Linked DNA regions of Homo sapiens. The protein of the gene in region 3 purifies or fractionates together with the protein of the main gene of each other region. This does not show direct contact. Each region holds a gene or a part of one and is shown on either strand. Other genes may lie near its edges.

Region 1 (2,895 bases), on a different chromosome or scaffold from region 3:
CAGTACTCTCAGGTCATGTTCACCTGTTTGTCTTCTAGGATGCCTACAGGACTGCCTGCTTCAGGTTCTTTACATTTGTTCTCTCTGCTGAACACTTATAGCACAAATATCCTTAGAGAGACCTTCCCTGACCACCCAAATACAAATAATCTCCACTCCATTTCCCAAGTCAGTCTCTATCACATTACCTTATGTTATTTCTTCTACTGCATTATCACTGTCTAAAATTCCTATTTACGAATTGTCTCTCTACTAGGATATCATACATGGATGTGATACATGAGGTCAGGAGACTTCATCTGTATTTTTTTCAGATGAATCCCCAGTGTCTAGCATAGTATCTGGATCATAATAAATGATAAATTTGTGAATGGATTGATTCACCTGAATTATTTCAGCACAAACTAAATTGTAGTAATCACACAGTTGGTTTTTAATAATTCTTCATATTTAAGAACAAAAGAACTACCCTCATCTTCAAAGAAATCAGACACAATTTTTTTTTTGTTTTACTAACTCATTTAGGAATTCTTTTCTTTTCTGGAAAATAAGCTTATGCTAGACTAATTTTCAAGGCTGAATATTTTTCTTCAAATGAAATAAATATAAACACATTTCTATATACACAGCATTTTTATTAAATATACTCTGTGAGAAAAAGAACACCCTAAAGTGCCAGATTTCATGTAAATCCAATAACTTAGTAAATACAATGGTGAAAAAAAATCAGAGGGAAACATAATTTAAATAATCTTATAAAAGAGCAAGAACATATCTTAATCTTAAGAAAACAATCATCAAAATATAAAAGGGAAAGAAATCTCTTTTGTAGAAGAATATATTTCAAATTCCACCTGTTGATCATTTCATTTAAAAAATTCTATTCTAAACACATGGGCAGTCTCTCTTACCAATATATATATTTAAATCAATGGTAGAAAGGGAATTTAGACTACTCATTCACACTGAGATAAAGTGACATTTTTGTTGCACAACAGTATTGCTCACTGGCACTAACAGTGGAAGATGGAGAAAGTAGATTTCTGGATTCAATTGTTAGCAGCAGAAATGGACTAATGCTAAAAATTTAGAAAAAAATAGTCCAAGCTGTAGCGATTTCCAAGTAATACAAACATTAACCAAACATTGCCAATTTGTAACGGGCTGTGAAAAACATATGAAAATACTCTACATTGAATACTAGCTTTATGTTACTTTCTATTAAAGATATTCAGTGGGCATATTCTAAATTATATAGGGCTTCTATAGAGACCTAAACTAGCAAGTATAATATGAAGCTAACAGGACAGTGTCAGCATATCTTGGGATGTTCTAGCCAATGTTTGGCTACAAGTATTTGGAAGGGGTCAAATAACTATATGCACATTCAAAATGAATACTTATAAAAAGAAATCTTAATGTATCAGATATCCACAGACTGAAAAGTGTTACACATGTTGTGGGGGGAAAATACTGATGGTTGGCTGAATGACCAATTAAACATACCACTTATGAAAAGCTGGGTGATTCAGGTGCAAAAAAATATATATGCACACATATCTCTCTAATAACATCCTACCAACATATATATGTTGCATGACATAGTTAAAGCTGTGTTACCAAACTAGGATGTGTAAAGTATCAATGTAGTTAAAATTAAATTTTAAGTAAAAAGCTGCTGCTACTTAAACAAGAGAGTGAACTTTGGGGTTTATTCAAGAATTAGTTCTCATATATAAAAAAGTTTGATATTAATAAACAATTCTGGTCACCATAAGGTTTTAGACAGTATAGAAACTTACAGAAAAGTGTTTTTGGACCACTTTAAATAGTTGGAGGAAGCAAATAAAAGGATTAAACTGGATTATGAGTATGAATGCATTTATGATCAAAATTAACACACCAAAAAAATCAAACCACATTTCACAGCAGAACCTGCAAAAACGTTTGTATTCATCTTTTTTGAACCATAAAAAAGAATGATTTAGTCTTGTCTAATACGACTTTTAAGCAACAAAAATAATTTAATCATGAAGTATCAGCTTGATTATGAATATATTCTATTATCTGTATCAGTTGGTAAATTAACTGTGTTACCCAAAAAGGCTGACCAGCTCTAACTAGTATGAACAGGATATTGAATTCATTAATGAATATATAACTATTTTGAGCATACAAATAATCTCTGGTTTTACACCCACTACATTTCAGAATCCTGTAAACTGTGAGGCATACAATATGTTTAATGTGGCAGAAAATCATATGAAATGATTATTTTATTCTGTTCAGTCCTTTTCCCATTAAGCATGCAAACACCGTCATAACCATCTTTGGTTTCACTTCTACGAGGTCATCAGGTAATGCATATATCCGGGCACCGATCTTTCGAGCAACTGAAATGGCGTATCTTGAAGAGACAAGAAAAATATCTTGGTGTTATCCACTGTGTTTTCACTTAACATATTTTAACAAAAGAGTGAAATATTTTGACAAGATTAGTTTTACGAAAAGGTTAAGTTTGTGAGTCTTAAATCTAAGACTCACATATAAGTTATATTTAAAAATATGAATTTTAAGGGCATAGTAACTTTTCCTATAAGGATTTTAGAGAATTAAAGGGCCATGTATTGTAATATAAACCATAAAGGCTTACTTAGCATTGTTCAGCTTGTCCTCATCAGATAAGTTTTCTCTCCTGATCATTTCTTGACGAACTGCATTTGGTGCAATGGCATCTATTAAATCTAGGACAGGTAAACTTGTGCTTATAGATTTATCCTAGAAAATAAAGCATAGATGAACATTCATAAACATCTGACCTTTAATTTTCATTATTTTCAGACTCTTCTGATCATATAACTGAAGGCAATCTACAAATTCTTTGTACTTAACCTA
Region 2 (7,590 bases), on a different chromosome or scaffold from region 3:
AAAGACCTTTGTTCACGTGTTTGTCTGCTGACCCTCTCCCCACAATTGTCTTGTGACCCTGACACATCCCTCTCTCGGAGAAACACCCACGAATGATCAATAAATACTAAGGGAACTCAGAGGCTGGCGGGATCCTCCATATGCTGAACGCTGGTTCCCCAGGTCCCCTTATTTCTTTCTCTATACTTTGTCTCTGTGTCTTTTTCTTTTCCAAGTCTCTCGTTCCACCTTACGAGAAACACCCACAGGTGTGGAGGGGCAACCCACCCCTTCAATAACATAGTTATTTGGATTTTTCCTCATCCATTAATTGAATGGACAAAGTGATTTCTAAAGTCCTATTCTGCACTGAATGCTAATGAGTCCCAACTTGAATCAGTACAATGTGTCAATCAATTATAATTCATATCACTGAGCTTTGCATAGCAGCTTGAACTTCCAGGACTCAAGATCTCAAATTAGTAATATAAATACTGCAACTCAAATTAAACTTGAAATTTAAAAAGCTCTTCTAAGCAACTCAATTGCTTAGTCACTTGACTAAGTCAATTGCAAGTCTGTTGCCCAGTCACCAATTACAACATTGCATATATTAGAAAATACATTCTGAAGTCTAAATAACTGACAGAATTAATTATTGGAACACAATCATTTTCTAAATTGAAGATTGGCTGTTCTATCTTCATTTCAATGTATTACCTTAAAAACAAATAAATACTTGGCCCATCTATTGATTTTTACATTTAAAGGAAAATTGATACCTTCAAGAACTATTTATTATGTTTCTGTTGAGAAATTAACAAAAAATTAAAAGTTAAAACAATTCTTACCTCTCCGTGTTTCTCAAAAAATTCACTTTTATGTCGATGCAATGTATCAATAACCTTAGTTAAGATCTGTGGTATTCTGTCTTTAATTGTAAGATATGCAAATGATCTAGAAAAGAGTCACATGCAATATATAACTTAGCAGCATCAATACTAGAAGACTGGCTATCTTTTAGTTTCTGGAACACTTCATGTATATTAAACTCCTCATACAACTATTAAAAGATAGACAAGTATTGTATGATTACTATATTAAGACATAAGAAAACCTGGAAAATTCGCTGGTATGTCATGGAAGCCAAACTGTCTTGGTGCCTCTAATCCCAGATTCTCCCATGGAGTCTGTTTAATCATTCTTATCTTTCCTATTCTATTGCTTTTATTTTCCTAAATCAGAAACTCGCTTAGCAAAGTGATAGGATAGGGAATGGATTAGCTTAGAAATCAAACAGGCTCTTGTCCCAGGTCTACTATCTGCTAAGTCACCTGCTTAGAAAGATGAATGAAGCAATGCATCTAAAACCACCTAAAGGGTCTAATGTGCTTGAACAACATAAAGAATTAAAGGTACTTTTAAGCCTGTTTCTCTCCATTCTGTCTATTTTCTAAGTCAATTTTAATTATTTTCAAAAATTTTCCCCTTCTCTGCCTTCTCTATCTGCACAATGGACTCCTTCCATCCTATTCTGCCCCTAAGCAAATGAAGGCGTGCTACTGTCTCTTCCCACTCAAAAAATCAGAGATTTTATAGAAGTGTTCAAGAATGAAGCAAGCTGGAGATGAAGAAAAACTTATACCTGCATTAAAAAATTAAAGATATTCTTGATTTTATTCATACAAAACCCAAGATTTACAGATTATCATTTTATATCATTCTAAGGAAATACATGATACAGGTAGAAAAAAAGCTTTATTTGGTGGAGAAATTCTGTGCAGTTTTAAATATAGAGCACAGAGCTTAGCTGACTAGTGTTTTTATCTCCAGATCACAGGAGACAATTGTTAAATTACTAGATTGTAACTTGGGTATTTCTTCAAAAGGTTTCCTCAAATGATAGCTATAGAACTTTAAGAAAAAAACTGCACACACTTTCCGACTCTGTGGTGCTTTCAGTACCACCCAAAACAGTGATTAGGTTTTAATGCGCATAATAACTACGTTGATCAGAATTTAATTTTTAAAAATCATTAATAAAAGAAATCACTAATACCTCAGAGGGTGAGCAGGAACATTAAATCAACTGTCACTTGAATTTTCCCAGGCAGTAGGTATAGTAAGTCCTTTTTTGAGATTTTACTTTAATTGGAAAGTATTACTGTTTTCCTAACTACTACATTTCCTGCACCTCTGGAACAAAGTCTCTGGCCAGGACTGGAGTGAGGCCAGAAGCCCTAGGGCGCAAAATTGAAGGAGATACTCTCTATACTTGCATGACCTGAAACAGTGACTGCCTCAATTTGGGGCCATTGGCGCCACTTTGTTGGCCTCAACCTACTTTCTGCCCAGGTTTATTTTCTTCAAAGTGTTCTCGTCTTTTGCAATATTTTGAAGTAAGGACAAATTTCAAATATAAATTTGGCCATTCGATTTATGCAAATGGATGTTATTTGCACGGTCACCCACAACTTTACCCAAGAATCAGTAGCGTGACGACTATAAAGCAAAAAACTAGACAGTTCTTACTGTGAGATTACGATTTGATCAACAACAGGGAGAAACCCGTTTCTTAATAGCGCTGAGATCCCCAACTCTTACGCAGAATTTTAACGCCCCCAAAGCGCGTCTATTAAAGTGAATAAATAAAAAGTGACCGCCAGGAACAGACCGCGAAGCTGACCCCTGTCCTGATCCTTACGAGCAGCCGCCGCGGGCAGGCTCCCTCCCCGGGGCCGCCTCCCTTCGCCTCCGAGCCAGTCCGCGAAACCCGCAAAGGCGCCCCGGAAAGCCGCGCCCGGCGGCGGGACTCGAACGCAGCCCACCGGGGAGCGGGCGCCCTCCGCTTAGTCCCCACAGGCTCCCGGCGAGGCCCGGCTTTCCGCAAAAGTGGGGAGGAGAAAAGCTAGACTAACCCCACGTCCTGTCCTGAGAGAGACGCCGGGACGACAGCCATCACTTTCCGCGATCCCGGCCGCAAAGCTCGGCTGTTCAATCGCCGCAGAAACAGAGGCGGTACCGCCGCGAAGGAGGAGCTGAGAATGGGGGTGGTGTGGCTTTAAAAAAAAAGTGCTTTTGAATAAAGAAACTTTATTTGGTGCCCGATCAAACGGCAAACAGTGGCTCGCCAGAAGACCCAATCTTCCGGGGACGAAGGCGGGGCCAGCGGAGGGCGACTAGAGGAGCGGATATGGAAGCGAGCGAAAGCCGGAAGCAGGCAAGGGACCGGGAGGTCCCAGGGCCTAGGGAGCGGAAGAGGTCGCGGCGACGCGGCTCACGTGGTCAGACAGTCACGTGGCCCGAGTTTCTCCCGCTAAGTGGGACCAGAGTTCAGTGCGGCTGCGCAGTAGCGGGGGTGGGCGGGAGCGCCCTTCCAGGAGATGGGTTGGCTGCAGTAGTGAGAGGCTGGGGGTGCGGCTCTTTCCCTGCAGTCCTGCCGAGGAAGCGTGCGTCCCTGGCGCTTCCTTCTTCTCTTCCGGCGGAGAGGTTAGTGTATTGCCTTTTCTTTAGCAGCTCGAGTGGTCCGGCTTGGAGGTCTGCGCCCTGGCTCCTGGCCGCCCGGAACGTGTACAGTTACGGGTTACGCCAGTGCGGCTGTGACCCTTTGCCTCTTACCGTGATCTTTGGTCAGCTTAGCTGGGAGTAAAAAGCACTCAATTAATGAACCCTTTTTTTGAGCCAGTGCACCGCGGTAACTGTAGAAATCGATAAAATAATTTTGAGTTTGAGGAATTGAACGGCATACTCCCAAAGATGAGCGCCACTTAGCTCTCGAATCGTAGCCTAGCTGTAATCGATTTTCTTAATTGGTGTAATTGTTCTCTAAAAGTTGAAATGTGCCCGGGAACTGAGTAACTGCCTTGTATTTCATTTTAAAAATTCGATCGAATGCCTACTATGTGCTGGGCGCTATTGTCAGGAGATATAATAGGAAAAAACACAAATCCGTATCCTCAGGGAGCTTCCATTCTGGAAGGAAGACACAAAAATCTGCCCTTTCCTCTTATTTTTTTCCTTTAGCTTTGTGTCTCACGTATTTTACTGATTTACCTCGTTTTGTCTGTCACTCCCAATGCAAGGTTCAAAAGATTCAAAAGATAGGATTTTTGTCTATTTTATTTTCAGCTGTATTGTCAGCAACTAGGACAATACCTGGCACATGATAAGAACTGAGTTCGTTTGCAGTATGAATTAATAAACTAAAAATTAAAGGTGTGCAAGTGATGTTAAACAATGGAGAAATGCAAAGTGGAGGAAGATAAGAGAATGGATGCTGGTTGTGTTTTTTTTTTTTTTTTTTTTTATTGATCATTCTTGGGTGTTTCTCGCAGAGGGGGATTTGGCAGGGTCATAGGACAATAGTGGAGGGAAGGTCAGCAGATAAACAAGTGCACAAAGGTCTCTGGTTTTCCTAGGCAGAGGACCCTGCGGCCTTCCGCAGTGTTTGTGTCCCTGGGTACTTGAGATTAGGGAGTGGTGATGACTCTTAACCAGCACGCTGCCTTCAAGCATCTGTTTAACAAAGCACATCTTGCACCGCCCTTAATCCATTCAACTCTGAGTGGACACAGCACATGTTTCAGAGAGCACAGGGTTGGGGGTAAGGTCACCGATTAGCAGGATCCCAAGGCAGAAGAATTTTTCTTAGTATGGAACAAAATGAAAAGTCTCCCATGTCTACTTCTTTCTACACAGACACGGCAACCATCCGATTTCTCAATCTTTTCCCCCCCTTTCCCCCCTTTCTATTACACAAAACCGCCATTGTCATCCCGTCCCGTTCTCAATGAGCTGTTGAGTACACCTCCCAGACGGGGTGGTGGCCGGGCAGAGGGGCTCCTCACATCCCAGTAGGGGCGGCCGGGCAGAGGCGCCCCTCACCTCCCGGACGGGGCGGCTGGCCGGGCGGGGGGCTGACCCCCCCACCTCCCTCCCGGACGGGGCGGCTGGCCGGGCGGGGGGCTGACCCCCCACCTCCCTCCCGGACGGGGCGGCTGGCCGGGCGGGGGGCTGACACCCCACCTTCCTCCCGGACGGGGGCTGGCCCCCCCACCTCCCTCCCAGACGGGGTGGCTGGCCGGGCGGGGGGCTGACCCCCACCTCCCTCCCGGATGGGGTGGCTGGCCTGGCGGGGGCTGACCCCCACCTCCCTCCCGGATGGGGTGGCTGCCGGGCGGAGGGTCTCCTCACTTCTCAGATGGGGCGGCCGGGCAGAGGCGCTCCTCACATCCCAGACGGGGCGGCGGGGCAGAGGTGCTCCCCACATCTCAGACGATGGGCGGCCGGGCAGAGACTCCCCTCACTTCCTAGATGGGATGGCGGCCGGGAAGAGGTGCTCCTCACTTCCTAGATGGGATGGCGGCCGGGCAGAGACGCTCCTCACTTTCCAGACTGGGCAGCCAGGCAGAGGGGCTCCTCACGTCCCAGACGATGGGGGGCCAGGCAGAGGCTGCAATCTCGGCACTTTGGGAGGCCAAGGCAGGCGGCTGGGAGGTGGAGGTTGTAGCGAGCCTCGATCACGCCACTGCACTCCAGCCTGTGCACCATTGAGCACTGAGTGAACCAGACTCCGTCTGCAAACCCGGCACCTCGGGAGGCCGAGGCTGGCAGATCACTCGCGGTTAGGAGCTGCAGACCAGCCCGGCCAACACAGCGAAACCCCGTCTCCACCAAAAAAGTACGAAAACCAGTCAGGCGTGGCGGCATGCGCCTGTAATCGCAGGCACTCGGCAGGCTGAGGCAGGAGAATCAGGCAGGGAGGTTGCAGTGAGCCGAGATGGCAGCAGTACAGTCCAGCTTCGGCTCGGCATCAGAGGGAGACCGTGGGGAGAGGGGGACCGTGGGGAGAGGGAGAGGAGGGAGAGGGAGAGGGCTGGTTGTGTGTTTTTAATGTAGTGGTTGGGGAAGGCTTCACTGGGTAGAAGACATTTTAGCAAACATCTGAAGGAGGTGAGGGTGTGAGCCTTTCAGATCCCTGGGAGAAGAGCGTAAGGAACAGCAAGTGCACAGATCCAGAGACCAGAATGAGGAGCAAAATAAGCAAAGGAGAGTGCTGTCAAAGTGGTGATAAAGGACAGATAATGTAGTGCCATGCAGGCCATTCTGAGGGGTTTAGCTTTTTTTTTTTTTTTTCGTTACAGAATCTCACTCTGTCGCCCAGACTTTAGTGCAGTGGCGCGATCTCGGCTCACTGCAACCTCCACCTCCCGGGTTCAGGCGATTCTCCTGCCTTGGCCTCCCGAGTAACTGGGATTACAGGCACCCGCCGCCACGCTCAGCTAATTTTTTTGTATTTTTAGTAGAGACGAGGTTTCACCATGTTGGCCAGGCTGGCCTCGAACATCTGACCTTGTGAATCACCCGCCTCGGCCTCCCAAAATGCTGGGGTTACAGGCGTGAGCCACCGCGCCAGGCTTTTTTTTTTTTTTTTTTTTTTTTTTTGAGACAGAGTCTCGCTTTGTTGCTCATTCTGGAGTGCAGTGGCGCAATCTCCGCCTCCCAGATTCAAGCCATTCTCGTGCCTCAGCCTCCCAAGTAACTGGGATTATAGGCCCATGCCACCATGCCCGGCTGATTTTTGTATTTTTAGTAGACACGGGGTTTCGCCGTGTTGGCCAGGCTGGTCTGGAACTCCTGACCCCAAGTGATCCCTCCCAAAGTGCTGAGATTACAGGCGTGAGCCGCCATGCCTGGTTGGAGGGCTTTGGCTTTTATTAAGTGAACCGTGAAGCCACAGCTAGATTTCGCGTTGAGATTCAACTTCAAAGGATCACTTTGGTTGCTGTGTTGAGAAGAAACTGTAGGGGGCCCAAAACAGAATCAGGAAAACTGGTTAAGAAGCTATTATAATAATCCATGGGAAGGATAGCAGTTTGGATCAGGTAGTATTATTACTGATGATGAGCAGTGGTCCCTAGAAGGCCCTTGGGATTTACTGAGAAGTTGGATATGGAGAATAAAGAGTCAAGCTGGACCCCACGTTTTTGGCTTAGCAGTTATAAAGATACTTATTACTGCTCATGAATGGGAAAGACTGGGAAGAAAGGGATGCAAGGGATTCTAGGGGTATAAGGGAGAGGTTAGAATGGTAGACCATGGAGTGTAAACTGGATATGGAGGAAGTGAAGTCATGGGGAGTGAGAGACAGTGAAAAGGTGGTTGGATCATTGACTTGTGGGTCCTGTTGGGGTTGAAGAATTATTGGAATTGGGTAATAGAAGGAGTGAGATGCAAAGATAGGAGGTGGTGCTTAGAGAGTAAAATGGATGAAACTGAGATGAGGAGGTCCGATGTATTGATAATGACAATAGGGCCCTGTCTGATAGAAAAACAGTGTAAGGCACAAATGTAATCTTAGGCTTTCTAGAAGGTGCAGTGATAAAAATGGGCTGGGTCCGGTGGCTCACGCCTGTAATCCCAACACTTTAGGAGGCCAAGGCAGGTGGATCACCTGAGGTCAGGATTTCAAGACCAGCCTGGCCAACATAATGAAACCCCGTCTCTACTAAAAATACAAAAAAATTAACTAGGCATGGTGGCAGACACCTGTAATCCCAGCTACTCGGGAGGCTGAGGCAGGAGAATCGCTTGAACCGGGGAGGCGGAGGT
Region 3 (7,123 bases):
CCCACGACAGGCAAACAGACCCCGAGAATGGGCCTCTGGGGCGGCTTCCCCTGGGCACAGCTAGGTGGTTGGCATGGGCAGGGCTCCCCTCATACACAAGATGCCTCCAAGCAAGGCCTGGCAGGGTCCTGACCACCGGCCAGAAGCATCCAGGCCACCTCTGTGCTCCGGCCTTGGGCCTTTCTGCTGGGCTCGGCTCAGCCTGTGGGCAGCTGCCAGTTCTTGCCACCTCTCCCTGTCACCCTGGGGACAAGGGGGCTGGGCGTCACCATCTGAGCACAAGCCCCTGAGTCGCCCTGACTGTGACCAGTCTCTCCCCCCAACACACGTGAGCCCGCTGCCACCTAAAACATGTCTCAGGCCTAGAAAAGCTCATGAAATACCCGCAAGCACCTTCCCCAGGCCCATGTCCGCTTTGTTTTACAGAAAACCTAAATCGCTTTCAACAAATCAATGGGAGGAGAGGAAGGGCCAGAAGCCCCTGCTAGTGGTCCCACCTGCTCCACAGATGTGAGGATGGGGCTCGGAGCCCGAGGAACATGGCTTGCAGGGTGGGTGGGGTCTTCCACCCCAAAGTGTCACCCGAGGGTCATCCGGCAGGTCTGCAGCTGTGGTGCTCCTCACAGACACCAGGTCTGGCCTCCCACAGCACAGAGACCAGTGCACATCTGTAGGCTGTGCCCGTGGCTCCTTCTGGCAGAGGGAGATGGGTGGGGGCCGCCATTCTTCTTCCTCCGCTGTGTCTCTCGCAGCCCCTGCCTGCTACCGTCCCGTCCTCCAGGCCTACTCCTGCCTCAGGGCCTTTGCAGTGGCTGCCCAGCCTGGAAGCCTCTGGGGGGCCACGCTTCCTCCATGCCTCCTCACCACACACTGTCCTGACACCCACATCAAGTGGCAGCCCCCGCCCCTGCCTGGCCTGTCCCACACCCCAGCACCACAGGCCCTGCACCCCAGCTCGGCCTCTCTCACACCCCAGCACCACGGGCCCTGTACCCCTGCCTGGCCTCTCCCACACTCCAGCCCAGCATCTCTCACACCCCAGCACCACAGGCCTGCACCCATGCCCGGCCTCACCCGCACCCCAGCACCCAGAGCCCTCCAGGCCTGCCTTCCAGCAGCCACTGTCCGGTTCTCCCAGCATCCAGAAAGCAGCTCAGGCCCTGGGGCTGCAGGGCGGCCCCGTGGTGGGGGGCTGTGGGCTCTGGGAGGGACTTCTGGTTTGGGGTCCTGGCTCCGGGACTCAGCCCTTCTGTTTTTGTTTCCTCCTTTTGAGGCGGTGCCCAGGACAAGCCTGTGACAAACAGAGGTGCAGGTCCTGCTCTGTCCAGCAGCACAAGGCAAAGACAGCCCTGGAATCCCACGGCTGGAAGCCTACAGCAACGTTCTTTCGTGTTACACCACAGCCCTCAGGAGCAAAATCAGGGCCACTGAAATGGCCCCTGCTCCAGCTCTGTCTGGGGCTGGCTGGTCTCAGACATGAGTGGCTGCCCTGAAGGGTGCAGGGCACACGGACCTGGCCACTGGCCTGGCACGCCCTCGGGACAGTTGAGCTGGGTGCACCTGGGCAGCCAAGAGAGCAGGCGGTGATGGTGGGCAGAGGGACATGGGGTCCCTCTGAGGACCCCAGGACGCTGAGGCCCAGACGCCAGCCACAGAGAGCCAAGCTACCCACGTCCCCGGGGCAGCAGGGAGGCCACCAGGGGCAGCAGCTTTGCACCATGTCCAGGCACGTCCTGGTGAGAAGTAGGATAGGGTCGGCTCTGCTATCCTTTGTGGGAACGAGGATGAGGTCGGCTCTGTTATCCTTTGTGGGAAGGACGAGGATGAGGTTGGCTCTGTTATCCTTTGTGGGAAGGAGGATGGGGTCGGCTCTGTTATCCTTTGTGGGAAGGAGGATGGGGTCTGCTCTGTTATCCTTTGTGGGAAGGAGGGTGAGGTCAGCTCTGTTATCCTTTGTGGAAAGGAGGATGGGGTCGGCTCTGTTATCCTTTGGGGAAACGAGGATGAGGTCGGCTCTGTTATCCTTTGTGGAAAGGAGGATGGGGTAGGCTCTGTTATCCAAAAACAGCTGCTGTAGCTCTTGTCACGTCCCCCTTAGCGGATGTGAGAGGCCTCGTCCTGGAAGTACATCCACGCAGGACCACGGCCTTAAGGGCAGGTGGGAGCCCTGGAGGGTCCTGCCAGCTACCGACGTGAGTGCCTCACGGAGAACCTCACTGGAGACAGCAAGGAGGGACCCCCGTTTCCATCGGCCTCTGGCAAGGCTCTCAGTCTAAATCCGCCAAGACACTTACCATTAAAATAATCTCCAATTTGAATGTTTGTATTACAATATTTCGTGCTTTTTAGCTTCTCTGATTTTGGTGCGCAAAACTATTTACGATTTCCTTGGAAAATTCTGCAGAACAAAAGGAAAACAAACCCTCCCCCTCCAGCTGCCAAGGGCTGGCCATCACCACCAGTGAATTCCAGCTCTGCGCAGGACAGGATCGAACAGACCCAATTTGTTTCACGCCAGCGTGAAAGGCTGCCAAAGGGTGCCCTGCCAAGTATTTGCCAACATGAAAGCAGATTAAAGCTCCCATCAGCCAGCATGGGTGCAGCTCGCCGTGAGAGCGGATCGGGGTCTCTGCAAGGCTCCTGTCCCAGCAGGTCCAGGCTTCGCAGTCCAGAGGCGGCAGCCAGGTCAGCACCGTGTGTCCCTCCAGGCCAGCACCACGAGCTCCGCCCCACGCTGGGGAAGTGTCCGGTGTGGGGGGGGATCCTGCTACCTGGGCAGACCCCTCTCACACACCGCGCCTTCTGCTCCCCATGGTTCCGGCGTTAACCCAGCAGCCCCACAGGAAGGGCTCCTTCCGCACCTCCAGGGACAGCTGACGGTCATGATCTGTGACAGACGACGGCTCAGAAGGTGGCAGAGACTGAAAGCTCTGGAGCCCTTGGAACTGATTAGGGGTCCTGGGCTCGGGACCCCTCCCCATGTTCAGGAAGGCAAGTCCAACAGGAGAGGGGCCACGGCTGGTAAGACCTGTGAGAGGACGGAGCCACAGGAACCCTCCAGCATGAATGCCCCAGGACGCAGCACAGGCCCCCTCGGGTTCCACACATGGACAGGCCGATCTGCAGTCCTGCTGGGAGCAGCCCACCCTGAAATGCTGGCGGCAGCATGTGCGGGCAGGACCGCCTCTAAATGCTGACCTCACCCCAGCAGTGGCTCCTGCTTCCTCCTGCTTCCTGATGCTCCTGAGGCTTCCCCAACTCCCTAGGGGTGTCATAGGCCTTTCGTCATAACCCAGGGAGTTTCTGATGCAGGCATCTGTCTGAGAGCCCTGCAGGAAGGACATAGGGCTCAGCCTTCAGAGCTCCAGGGACCCAGTGATCTGGCAGGTAGCTGTCTACAAATTCTGGGGTAGGCTGGGCAACTCCAAATTCAGGTGTGTCTGGCTTCAAGAACTACCGCTTCCGTAAAGTGTGGCTTTGCCAACTCAAGAACAGCAGCCAGGAGGCCAGAGGCTTCCTCTCTACAGGAAGGACGGTGGACCCCACTCCCACCCACTGGCCTCTGCTCCCACCACACCTGGCCACGCCAGGGAGGCTGTGGGCACTGCCAACCAGTGAGAGCTTGCTGACAGCTCAGATGACTGTGCAGTACGAATCAGGCCCACAGCATCTTGGCACAAGCTCACGGACTCACGCACCCCTCTGGCTTGCAGCACCCCGGCACTTGGGGCAAAAGGCCAGGAAGGGGCCCGGCCACACCTGGCTGCTCTCCAGGTGGCCCTCGCTGCCTGGCCTTATGGAGCGTGGAGCTGTCCCTTTTGTCTTTCCTCACAGGACCACAAGGGGAAGCAGGTGGCCCAGGCACGAGGGATGTGGCCAGGCTGTGAGTGGCAGCACCGGGTCCGAAGCCGGGTCCAGAGGCTGTCAAGCCACCATGCAAGCCGCCTCTGCTAACGATGGGATGACAGAAACCTGGTGCTGGCGAGGGGGCCACACGTAACACGGCCATATGGTGGCTCCCAACTATGGTCTTTGACTAGGACTTCATTCACAGCCTCTGTCGGGGCTGACCAAGTGGGTATCCCTTGGCCGCAAAGCGGGGGTGGAGGACAGGAGCCCTTGGCCCAGACTCCTGGCTTCCTGAGAAATAGAAAGAGCCGAACCCCCAACCCTAGCCTAGACAGGACAGTGGCAAGGTGTGTGTTTCCCCCAGTCGGGGCCTGGACCTGGGGTGGCCATGGACTTACTGCCAGCTCTGAACAAGCGGTGCCCACCCAGGGGCAAAGGAGAGCCAGCCACTCCTACAAGGCAGATGAAACTGCATTTCCAATCTCACCATCACCTTGCTGCTCACACGGGAGGCATGCACAGCAGGGGCCCAGGGCACCGAAGGGCACTCGTGGATGGGTACTCGAGACGGCCCTGCCCTTTCTGGCACAACTGCCTTGGCCGGCACCAGCCACAGTTCCCGCGGCTCCCAGGAGTCGCGTGTGCGTCTGATGGACCCCCAACACCCTAATGCAGGCATACGGCGGCCCAAAGCTGCAGGGCTGATGATTGGTTTCCGAGGATTGCAAACCAGCCTGGGTTTTTTAAGAAAAGGAAAGATGTAAGCTCTTTAGCCAAAACAAGATGAAAACCTCAAAGGAATTCAAATTACTCAGCCACAAGTAGGAAGGAAGGAGGACGGAGCAGCACCAGGCTTCCCATGGTGGTTCAGCCCACTGAGGAGAACAGGGTGCAGCCACCTGTCTTCTTTCACCTGCAGAAATCTAAAACTTCAGCTCATTCAGCAGCAAAATGGGCAGTTTTAGCTTCAGGAAGCTGTTTTGGAAGTCCAGGGGTGACAGCTGCCCCAGATGGCCTCGTCTGTGAAACCCCCAACTCTAGCCCAAGGCCCTGTGGCAGGGACGCTCTGTGCTCCAGGGCCTCCATCCAGACACCTGCCTGGTCCATGTGCAGGGCTTCTCAGGATGCACTTCACAGACACAGGGGCCGACACTGAGAATGCACATCTGCACTGTCCAGGTACAGTGACCCGAGCGGGCAGGACCACGCCACTGGCCAGCCTCCGGCCTCCACCATGGGCAACACAGATCCACTGGCCCAACCTCATGGCCAGGCACCGGCAGCAGCCTCTCCCAGTCAGCACGCTCTCCCAGTCAGCACCCCAGAGCCCCTGCTGCAGGACAGGGGATGCCTGCGGCTTGGTGGAGAGCTTGGGCGCACACACAGCCCTCAGTGGGCCCAAGGCCCAGGCTGGCACAGAAACTACATACATGGTATCCAACCCGTCCTATGGCTCTCAGGTGCTGGGCATCAGGTGTCATGCCCAGAGGTGACCTCGACGCCTCCCACAAGGGGGGATGACCAGGTGGCCTGGCAACTCCCTTCGGTTCCCTCTGTGCCTGAGCCTCTGTGCATGTCTGTGCTGGCCTCGCCACATGGCTGGGCCACATCCCAGGGTAGGAACACGGCTGCCTGTATCCAAGGGCCAGGCACACAGAGGGCACCAAAAAGAAAGCAAAGGGCAGCCATGACACACTGCAGCTGCCGCCGGCTCTGACACAAAGCCCCACATGGGCCTCAGCTCCATGAGGACACAGGGTCCCGGAACATGAGTCACAGAAGACAGAAGGTTGGCCCTCAGAGTCTGTGCTGGAGGCATCCCCAGGCACCCCTGCTCCCTTTGGAAGCTGCCATTCTCCTGGACATCTTGGAGTGGCTTGCACCCCCAAATGCAGAGCTGGGTGGACTGGGCACCCACAACCTCTCCTTCTGTGTGGCACGTGGCCGAGCACCAAGCAGAGTATGGTCCACACTGCCTTGTCTCTGGGCGCACGTGCACTGGCCCGAGTCTCTCCTGCAAATGTGTATCTTGCCCCCACCCTGCATCTCTGTGTTGATGCGGTAGCGTCCAGACTGTGCTTGAAGCCATGAAGAATTTTCCAGGATCTTCTACAAGAAACTGCTCCCACTGACCAAGAACTGGGCATCCCACTGCCACATCCAGCTCTCTGGACCCACAGAGGACAGGTGAGCGCTGGCTCCTGGGTGGCCAGGAGGGGCAGGGAAGGGGCAGGGAAGGGGCAGCCCCACCCCTGCCTCTGGGGGAAGGCCAGCTGCAGGCATATGAGCCTCTGGGGCACTGTGGCTGGTTCCAGTCGGAAGGCGTCAAGCCATGTAGTGGGGCTGAGCCCAGTTCCCGTGAGCAAGGCCATGCTGAGGGCAGATGGAGTTTGCTGCTGGAAGCCAGAGGCCAGTGCAGGTGAAGGCCTGGGCCCTGGCCTGGAGCTCAGCCCTGGACAGAGCCAGCAGGTCTTACGACTGTGGTCCTCCTGGCTCCCTTCCAGGAAACATGTACCATGTTGGCACACTCAGAAGGGCCGTGGCATGGGGATGGGACTGGCGAGTGCCTCCTGTAAGCTGGGACCTGCCCTAGACGGGCCACTCAGAGCCGTGCCTGCTGCCTCCTGCAGATGTGGGCAAGAGCCCCCCGTGCAGGCCAGGGCCACGGCCTCCTCCACGCACTGGCTGGTCTGTCACGAGTGTTCGCTACAATGCTGCCTCTGGAGTTAGCCCCAGCGCACCCTTCCTCAGCACTACTTCATGGAAGCCTGTGCTCCATTCACAACAACATTCCAGTTAACAGTGACTCTTGTCTTCAGAACCATTTTCCGCCAGCCTCAGGGAGCGCTGTAGAAATTAAAGCTAGTCTCGCAGACCAGATGGTGAGGGTGAGTGTGCAGGGGCAGCCTGTTCCCAGGCCTGAAGCCATCCTCCCTGCAGTCACTACCACTTGGAAAAACAGCCACACAAGTGCACTGCCACCATGGCACCACTCCTCACCCACGCACATCCCCAGGGACTCCGGATCCCTCACAATCCACTCTCCAGACCTTCACGGCACCGTCACCAGTGATCCCATGGCCCTAGCCCTTCAGGGACACTCGGTGATGAAGCCGTGCGGGTCCCGCCAAAAGCAAAGTGTGGCGCTCCGCAGAGTCGCCAGGGAGAGCCACGTCGGGGGTGCAGAGACACACCTGTCTGGGAAAGTGCTGCTGTTGGTGTTTTCAGACACGTACAGAGGCAGGAGCCAGCATTGCTCACAGGGAATTAATAA

The links.
Region 1: the proteins of NKD2 (region 3) and PLS1 purify together in Homo sapiens (affinity purification with mass spectrometry; 3 studies listed by BioGRID and IntAct, with this or other methods). This does not show direct contact.
Region 2: the proteins of NKD2 (region 3) and DCPH1 purify together in Homo sapiens (affinity purification with mass spectrometry; 3 studies listed by BioGRID and IntAct, with this or other methods). This does not show direct contact.

What each region holds. Positions count from the first base shown.
Region 1 is NC_000003.12:142,711,384-142,714,278, reverse strand, and holds the end of PLS1 (plastin-1), read right to left. Parts: intron 2,779-2,895; coding exon 2,654-2,778; intron 2,408-2,653; coding exon 2,272-2,407; 3' UTR 615-2,271; downstream 1-614. UniProt on the Homo sapiens protein: Actin-bundling protein. In the inner ear, it is required for stereocilia formation. Mediates liquid packing of actin filaments that is necessary for stereocilia to grow to their proper dimensions.
Region 2 is NC_000006.12:151,447,894-151,455,483, reverse strand, and holds the start of DCPH1 (damage-control phosphatase ARMT1), read right to left. Parts: upstream 3,019-7,590; 5' UTR 2,939-3,018; coding exon 2,898-2,938; intron 937-2,897; coding exon 831-936; intron 1-830. UniProt on the Homo sapiens protein: Metal-dependent phosphatase that shows phosphatase activity against several substrates, including fructose-1-phosphate and fructose-6-phosphate.
Region 3 is NC_000005.10:1,011,736-1,018,858, reverse strand, and holds part of NKD2 (protein naked cuticle homolog 2), read right to left. Parts: intron 1-7,123. UniProt on the Homo sapiens protein: Cell autonomous antagonist of the canonical Wnt signaling pathway. May activate a second Wnt signaling pathway that controls planar cell polarity.